2 separate regions of the Homo sapiens genome follow, and region 1 is linked to region 2. The links come from fine-mapping of genetic effects on gene expression. A gene starts in region 2. The other region holds a variant in brackets. All regions are shown on one strand. Distances are from middle to middle. Region 1 holds the start of LOC124904728 (a long non-coding RNA gene). Region 2 holds the start of IGFL1 (IGF like family member 1).

The links. PIP is the estimated chance that this variant, and not a neighbour inherited with it, causes the effect.
Region 1: its variant is the best candidate, but not a certain one, in a credible set for the expression of IGFL1 in unexposed skin (GTEx, PIP 0.63).

What each region holds. Positions count from the first base shown.
Region 1 is chr19:46,249,024-46,253,413 of GRCh38, forward strand. It overlaps LOC124904728 (a long non-coding RNA gene), which reads right to left and starts at 1,184. Exons shown (of 2, transcript XR_007067273.1): 1 at 1,122-1,184. The variant A/G (reference allele first, on the strand shown) is at 1,914.
Region 2 is chr19:46,227,294-46,231,683 of GRCh38, forward strand. It overlaps IGFL1 (IGF like family member 1), which reads left to right and starts at 2,449. Exons shown (of 4, transcript NM_198541.2): 1 at 2,449-2,506; 2 at 2,815-2,868; 3 at 2,981-3,224; 4 at 3,528-3,950. The coding sequence starts at 2,482. The coding sequence ends at 3,537. RefSeq lists an enhancer at 1,797-2,996.

The DNA.
Region 1 (4,390 bases), 22 kb after region 2:
AGATGGAAAGCCGACTGGTAGTTGCCAAGGGTGAGGGTAGAGGGGAAGGGGAGGAACAGCTAAGTAGGCATACAGTGGTCGGGGGCTGTGGAGCCAGGTGACTCGGAGCTAAAAAGCAATTCTGGAAGATGACTGAGCTACTCTTCTTTCAACTTGAGAGAGGAAGAGAAGGAAGGAGAGGAGGGAAAAGACAGGGAGGGGAAGAGAGGAGAGTGGGGCAGTGGAGGGGGAGAGAGAGAGAGAGAGAGATTGATGGTTGCGCAAAAAGAAGCTAGTGAACACAGCAGGCATTGCTCACCTTGATGGAATACACACAACAAAACTCTGTCCACCGCCTGGGCTGCCCTTACTTGAGCACACTCCTGGGGTAGTCAGGCCTCACTCCTGGGACATGGAGCCTCACTACTGCCTGGTGCTGAGAGCCCAGGGGCTCCAGTCAGCAGTGCTGGAAGCAGGGCCAGAAGTGCAGTTAGGACCACAGAGCTGGGTCTTGTTCAAGGACAGGATGATCCCCTTATTACAGCCCCAAGAGATTGCAGATCTGGTCTCCACTCTGGAGTGTCAACTGGCACAACCACAGTCCAATATCTGGAAGAGTCAGAGCTGATGAGCTGACAGGGGACCTCTGGGAGCCCCCAACCCTATCCACAGTGCTATAATCCTCCCTCCTCTCTTCTCCCTCCGCTCACCACACCCCTTCTCATCTGTGGTCCCTTCTGAGTCTGAGCCCAGGAGTTCAAAAACAAAGATCAGCTGAGAGCAGAAGGAGAATGACAATGTTTCTGGGGTCACCGGATCATGATCATTGGGGCACAAGATGATGTCTCTGAGTTTCTTTGGTTGCTGTAACAGCTCACAGTGGATTTTGGGACTGACTCTGGATGTAGGTCCTGGGGACTGGGCTTGGCAGGTGAGGAAATGCAGGGAGGGCTCTGGAAAGGGTTAAGCTTCTGGAATTTGCAGGTGGGGAGAGAGATTGCAATGCAGTCAGAGAGGACACGGGTGATTATGAGGTGGGAAACCGAGAATTAAACAGAAAAGAGAAAATTAAGTTTGAAGTTCAGAGGTACCTTAGGGATAACATTAGGCATTAGCTCAGCTTGGGGCTGGGGATGACTTACCGAAGATTCTGGGCACCATGGTTTAGGCTTCAGAGCAGCAGATGAGAGAGCAGCAGTGGAAATGGGTCAGTGACTTTACACAGGAGATTATTATAGGGTATGAACTTACCCATATTTAGGGAGGTGTGCAGAAGGAGTGGTTTCTTAAAAAGGGTGGGGCATGAAAAGCCACAGAAAGCATAACAAAATAAAAGCATTGACACATTAGTAGGATGCTACTGGACCTGTTCCAGGGCTGTCATGTTCTCAGACAGCTCAAAACTCAGGGCATGAAGGACATTTTCTCCGGTATTCACTGTGAGAACCTCATAGGGTTCCTGGAGGTAAAACTCTTAGAAAAGTGCAGAGGCTCCCCTTAGACTGGGCCCCCTGGAATTTTTAATTCTCAGATTGCTCCACCCTGAGCCTCCAGGAATTCATTCGTTAGACTTCATGTTTTCCTATCCTGGTACTGGTTCCCACAGGGGTTTCTGGTCATGGGTTTCTGTTGCAGTAGTTTTGATTCTCTGTATCCACCTGCCTGTGTCAACAAATCTTAGGGCAGTGGTTTGCCCTGTGACCCCACTCCTCTAATGGATATAAGAAGAAGTGTTAATTGTTTCTTTGTTCAGTATTCACTTTCTGTTAAGATGGAGTGATGAGTTCCAAGTTTCTTACATGCTTGACTGGAAACTGGAAGTCCCAGAGAACATTTCTTTAGAGATGAGGTCTCACTATGTTGCCCAGGTTAGACTTGAACTCTTGGGCTCAAGTGATCCTCCCACATCAGCCTCCTGAGTATCTGGGATTATA[A/G]GCATGTGCCATAGCACCGGCTCAAAAACCTACTTTTAATAATGTTCATCCTCTGCAAGCTGAGACTTTCTTTATGACCCAACATATGTGTGGGGTTCCCAGTTTACATGATATTTACAAACACGTTGACTTTACTGGATGCTTATACGTCCTCATTTCATTGTGCTTAAAGAGGAAACTGTAGCTCAGAGAGGTTAAGTACGTTTTGAAATGCCACAACTAGTAATGGTAAACCTGGGTCCCTAAAGTCACGAGAGAGAATTATGAGAGTATGATAGGAAACTTCAAAGGTACCGAAGGCAGAAACTGCTAACAGCATTGGTCTCTGAGGAGTGCAAACGAGCAAATGAGGGGGGAGGTAAAAGGAGGGGAAGGAGATTTTTATTTTTAATTTTCAAAAACCATGTGCTGAAAGTTTTATGCTTTGCATGCATATCTCTAATAATTTAGGGTGAATTTGGGTTGGGCAAATACCCAGGAGAGTGACCAATGGCAAGACAAGACAATGAGAGAGGTAAGCGTGAGTCCTATGGGATGCATAGAGTGAGTCCTTAATTCTCTATCAGTGAGGGAAGTTGGAAGCAGGGTGGGAAGGTTGGGAGAAAGAGAAACCCTGAAGGGAACTAAGTTACTGGGAGCAGGTGCTGGTAGGTGAGTCATGCTGTGGAAGCCTGTTTGCACTGTTTCAAGGAGTGACTCTTTGGTTGGATGAAAAAGGGACGCCGTGGGTGTAGGTAGAGAAGGTGCTGGAGGGGAAGGCAGGCCCAGGTAGCAAAGGGCCTTGTGGGACAAGCTGGGAGCCTGGGTTTCATCCTAGCGGTGGTGGGGAGTCGTTCAATAATTTTTTTGGTTTTTTCTTTTCTTTTCTTTTCTTTTTTTTTTTTTTGAGACAGAGTTTTGCTCTTGTTGCCCAGGCTGGAGTGCAATGGCGCCATCTCGGCTTATCACAACCTCTGCCTCCAAGGCTCAAGCAATTCTCCTGCGTCAGTCTCCCAAGTAGCCGGGATTACAGACATGCACCACCACACCCAGCTAATTTTTTTTAATTTTTATTTTTTGTATTTTTAGTAGAGATGGAGTTTCTCCATGTTGATCAGGCTGGTCTTGAACTCCCAACCTCAGGTGATCCACCCTCCTTCGGCCTCCCAAAGTGCTGGGATTACAGGTGTGAGCCACCGCGACTGGCCATCACTCAATAATTTTAAGCAGTGAAACTCATGACCAGATTTGCATTCTTCTAAAACCAGGCCCCACTCTGTGATCCTGGCGTGTCTTCCCAGACACCCGGGACTATCACAGTCACCACTGCAGCAGGGCAGCGTTTTCCAGCACACTATTATCACCTTGCTCATGTGTTTATTTACTTTGCAAAAATATTGGTTTGTTAGTGTCAGAGACAATTCCCCATGGATCTCTTGCTTTTTTGCTGGCCTGGCAGTGAGGCATTGACTGTCCTTTTGTTCCACACTCTTTTCAAGGATGTTTGTGTAGTGTACTGCCTTGGAAGACAGAGGTAAGGTTTCCCTTTAGAGCAAAGAATACTTGTTTACTGTCCTGTATAAAAATAATACTCTCTTCCTCCAGGTCATTTAGGCTCTGATAAAACCCTAATAATTTAGATTCTGGTAAAATGCTTTCTCTTAATGGCAGAGCTTGTTAAGAAGAACAGAATACTCTGGTGTGTTTCACAGCGGTTACTTTCCCCCTTCCCACTTCATGCCAGACCATGAAGGAGATTTTTCTCCCATATTCACTGTGAGAACCTGATAGGGTTCCTGGAGGTAAAACTCTTAGAAAAATGCAGAGGCTCCCCTTAGACTGGGCCCCCTGGAGTTTTTAATTCTCAGACTGCTCCGCCGTGAGCCTCCAGGAATTCATTCATTAGACTTCATGTTTTCCTGTCCTGGTACTGGTTCCCACAGGGGTTTCTGGTCATGGGTTTCTGTTGCAGTAGTTTTGATTCTCTGTATCCACCTGCCTGTCTCTCGAAATCTTAAGGGCAGTGGTTTGCTCTGTGATCCCACTCCTCTAATGGATGTAAGAATTGTTAATTTTCTCTTTGTTCAGTATTCACTTTCTGTTAAGATGCAGTGATGAGTTCCAAGCCTCTTACATGCTTGACTGGAAGCTGGGAGTCCCAGAGAACATTTCTTTAGAGATGAGGTATCACTATGTTGCCCAGGTTAGACTTGAACTCTCAGGCTCAAGTGATCCTCCCACATCAGCCTCCTGAGTATCTGGGATTATAGGCATCTGCCATAGCACCCAGCTCAAAAACCTACTTTTAATAATAATCATCCTTTGGAAGCTGAGACTTTCTTTATGACCCATCATATGATCAATTTAGCATAAATGTTTAACATAGACTTGAAAAAAATGTATGTTCTACCACTGATGAGAGAGAGATATTTATATATTTGCATATATAAAATTAGGCCAGGTGTGTTGGCTCACACCTGTAATCCCAGCACTTTGGG
Region 2 (4,390 bases):
AGGAAGGTGCAGGGACAGGGTTTGAACGCAGGGCTGACTGACCCTAAAGCCTCCTCATGTCTAATTGGGGGCTCTTAGTGTCCAGGGAGCCCTGGACGGGTGCCCACTGGCCTCACACTGTCCCAGCCTCCGAGGCCTCCATGATCTGCTAAAATCTCCCTCTACCTTCCAGATGCTGCATTGACTCAGCTGCTCTGAGAGGCCAGGAAGGAGCAGCTGGACTCCTCCCTCCTCAGAGGTGCCCACCTTGCCCCTGCCCTGGGGAAGGTGCTCCACTCTCTCACTCTGGCTCATATGCAGGCAGCCTTGCCTCTTCTTGGTAGAGACAGTAAGACCAGTGCAGGGCTCCACTGCAGCCTCCCAGAAAATGCCTGGAACCAAGGACCTGAGAACTCTACCCCTTTATGGAAGACATCAAAGGGGAGACATGTCAGTGGCTCTTAGAGAAGAAGGAGATGATCCTGGAGGCTTCTGTGCTCCCAAGTGTCCTCACCATTTGGCTGTGACTCCCTCCAGAAACTAGATATCTAGTTCTAGATATGTGCTATGCTATCATATAATAATATCATACGATAGAACAATATAATAATATTCTATCATTACTTGGAATATACACAGTCCCAATAAGAGGGTCCTAAACAGGCTGGGCGCAGTGGCTCACACCTGTAATCACAGCACTTTGGGAGGCTGAGGTGAGCAGATCACTTGCGGTCAGAAGTTCAAGACCAGCCTGGCAAATACGGTAAAACCCCATCTCTATGGAGAATACACAAATTAGCCGGGTGTGTTGGCGGGCATCTGTAATCCCAGCTACTCAGAGACTGAGGCAGGAGAATCACTTGAACCTGGCAGGCAGAGGTTGCAGTGAGCCAAGATCGTGCAACTGCACTCCAGCCTGGGCAACTGAACAAGGCTTCATCTCAAAAAAATAAATAATTTTTTTTAAAGTGTCATAAACAGTTGAGCACAGCATTCTGTTGAATGCACACTGTCCCATTTTCTAACCCATTTCTTCACTTAAAAATAACATTGTTTATGCCCAAGTAAATTGATTTTCCATGCTACTAGCACATCCTAATCTGTGTCCTAGAAAACACTGCTGTACCCCACAGCAGCAAGGAACAGAGGCCAAGGGAGCAGACAGGGAGATGGTGCTGGAAGCAGGGTCTGCTCTGTCGAGGGAGAAGGTGGGTGCTGAGCACTCTGGTATTTATTGAAGTCATTTCTCTGCAGCCTCTTCCTGTGTCTCCTGCCTCCAGAGAGAAGCCCCTATCCGTGCTCCCCAGGAACACAGATGCAGGATCTTCCACACACACAAATCTAACCACATCCATGCCCTGCTAGGAGCCAGCCATGGTGCCTAGAGGGTGACAGGTCACCTTGCCTGGCCCGGAGGAGAACGGCTTGTCCATGCCATGTGTGGCCTGTGAGCTTGAGCGGAGGAATTCCTGCAGAAGCTGGGCAGGGGTAGGGGGGCACAGAACTGACCCAAAACAGCTCCTTCCCCTCTGTCCTCACATCCTGACCCCAAGATGGCTCTTCTCAGGGAAAATCACAACCCAACCCTCTGAAAAAGCACATTAAGGAAAAACACCTTTGAGAATCTCAGGGGGGGATGTGGAATTTCTCCACCAGAACTTCACAGTGATAATGACACCAAACACAAGAACGACAATAACCAAAATCAGGAGTTTTATTCTCCTACCTTCTCTCTCTCTCTCTCTCCTCTCACTGTCATGAACGTCACGAAGACACTGACTTTGCGTTTTCTACTCAGCACTGCATCACTGGTGTCTGACACGAAGCCTGGGACATGTAGGCTCCCAAGTGGACCTGTCCTGGGTAAATGACCATTAATGAGACAGAGAAGGAGATGAAGAGCCCCCAGAGGAGTGTTGAGTCCCAGGGGTCCCGCCAGCTCCACTCCCACCTTCCAAACCTGTGAAAGTCAGGTGCCTGAGTCACACAGTCTCTCCCACCTGAATGCCATGAGCTGCAGGTGACTGAGAAGTTACTGGATTCTTGACCATGTGTTTCGGTTGTGAGGTTGGGACCTAATGGGACCCTTTGAAATGATGTCATGGGTTAGCAATGTCCCAAGGAAACTGAGGAAAGTCATAGCTCAGTAGGATCCTGTGGAATCGCTGTGTGGACATGTGAGTGTCGGAGAGTGTTAATGCCAGGAGCATCCTGAACCTTCCTATTTTCCAGAGGACTCAGTGTGGGGGACGATTGGGGCACATAGCACAGAGAAGGTGGAGGGTGTACCGCTTCTCTCCTGATTACAAAGGTGAGATCAAAGCTACAATGACACGTACCCTGCCTGGCACCTCTCCTGCCCAAGGACCCAGCCTGTCTCTGCAGGACTTGCAGGAGGGCAGGAAATGCCATGACATCACCAGCTCCACTAGAAATATGGGATAAAAGGAGTGGCTGAGATCTGCTGATCCCCTCCTCACTCCACTGCAACCACCCAGAGCCATGGCTCCCCGAGGCTGCATCGTAGGTAAGGAGGACAGGACCCCATTCCCACCTGAGCCCATCTCCAATCTCAGCCACCACCAGGGCTCTCTCCCTACCCCAAACTACACCTCATCCCTGTTCCCATGCCCAGCCAAATCTCCAGGCGTGAATTGCTCACAGCAATTCCCCATCCATAGTGCCCAGATCAGCCCCATCCACAGCCCTGTTTCAGTCCCTGAGCTGCTCAAAGCCATACCGAGCCCTGGTTCCACCCAGTCTTCTTCTAAATGTCAGTGCCAGTCATATCTGTGGCTGTCCACTCACCCCATCTTCCCTTTCCCTTTCCCACAGCTGTCTTTGCCATTTTCTGCATCTCCAGGCTCCTCTGCTCACACGGAGCCCCAGGTGAGCCCAGGAGTGTTTGGGAAGCTGGAGGAGGGGTACACCTTCCAGGGGACCCCAGGCTGGGACCCACCTGCCACTACCTCCTGGATCTCACCAGCTCTGTCTCCTCCAGTGGCCCCCATGACTCCTTACCTGATGCTGTGCCAGCCACACAAGAGATGTGGGGACAAGTTCTACGACCCCCTGCAGCACTGTTGCTATGATGATGCCGTCGTGCCCTTGGCCAGGACCCAGACGTGTGGAAACTGCACCTTCAGAGTCTGCTTTGAGCAGTGCTGCCCCTGGACCTTCATGGTGAAGCTGATAAACCAGAACTGCGACTCAGCCCGGACCTCGGATGACAGGCTTTGTCGCAGGTGAGTCCTGTCCCCTCCGTGGGATTGTGGGTGCAGGGTAGCTGCATGCCTGTTCTGCCCTGGGTGGAGCCCCCATTCTCCTTGTCTCCCTGTCTCTGCCCCCTGCTTCTATTCAATCCACCTCTCCCTTTCCCTACACCTGTGTCTCCATCCATTTTTATTTCCCTCTCAGAATCTCACTCTCTCTACCCCGCTGTCCTCTCCTCCTGGCTCTCCTGTCCTCATTTCTGCCCATGTTCAGTCTCGCCCCCATCTCTGGCCATCTCTGTCCCGCTCAGTGTCTCTCTCTGTCACTATCTCCAGTGTCAGCTAATGGAACATCAGGGGAACGATGACTCCTGGATTCTCCTTCCTGGGTGGGCCTGGAGAAAGAGGCTGGTGTTACCTGAGATCTGGGATGCTGAGTGGCTGTTTGGGGGCCAGAGAAACACACACTCAACTGCCCACTTCATTCTGTGACCTGTCTGAGGCCCACCCTGCAGCTGCCCTGAGGAGGCCCACAGGTCCCCTTCTAGAATTCTGGACAGCATGAGATGCGTGTGCTGATGGGGGCCCAGGGACTCTGAACCCTCCTGATGACCCCTATGGCCAACATCAACCCGGCACCACCCCAAGGCTGGCTGGGGAACCCTTCACCCTTCTGTGAGATTTTCCATCATCTCAAGTTCTCTTCTATCCAGGAGCAAAGCACAGGATCATAATAAATTTATGTACTTTATAAATGAATGCTGTAGAATTCATGAATTAGAGAGCTTGGACTGTTGAAAGGGGTCACAGAGGGTGACGTGGGGCCCCTTCTCTCTGTCACCCTGAGGCATCTGGGCCTTTCCATTTGTTCTGTTCGTGCACACACTTATTTTCTCTTTTTCCATTTATTTTTAAATTTATTATTTTGTTATTTGTGCTCGGTGACTAGGACCCTGGCCGCACCTGGGACAGGGGCCACCCTCCTACACCAGCCTCCACCACCCCATGGCTCCCTGAACCCAGTCACAACATCGGGAGCAGCCCAGGTGGGGTGGGGAGGAGGTGGGGATCGCGAGAGGGCTTCGGAGAGGCACTCCCTCTCCCACCAGTTCTGGGACAGAACAGGACCCGGCTGTTTGTTCTTGATGTACGTTAAGGAGATGCAGACAGACTGGGAAAGAACGGAGGTTCTTTCTCCA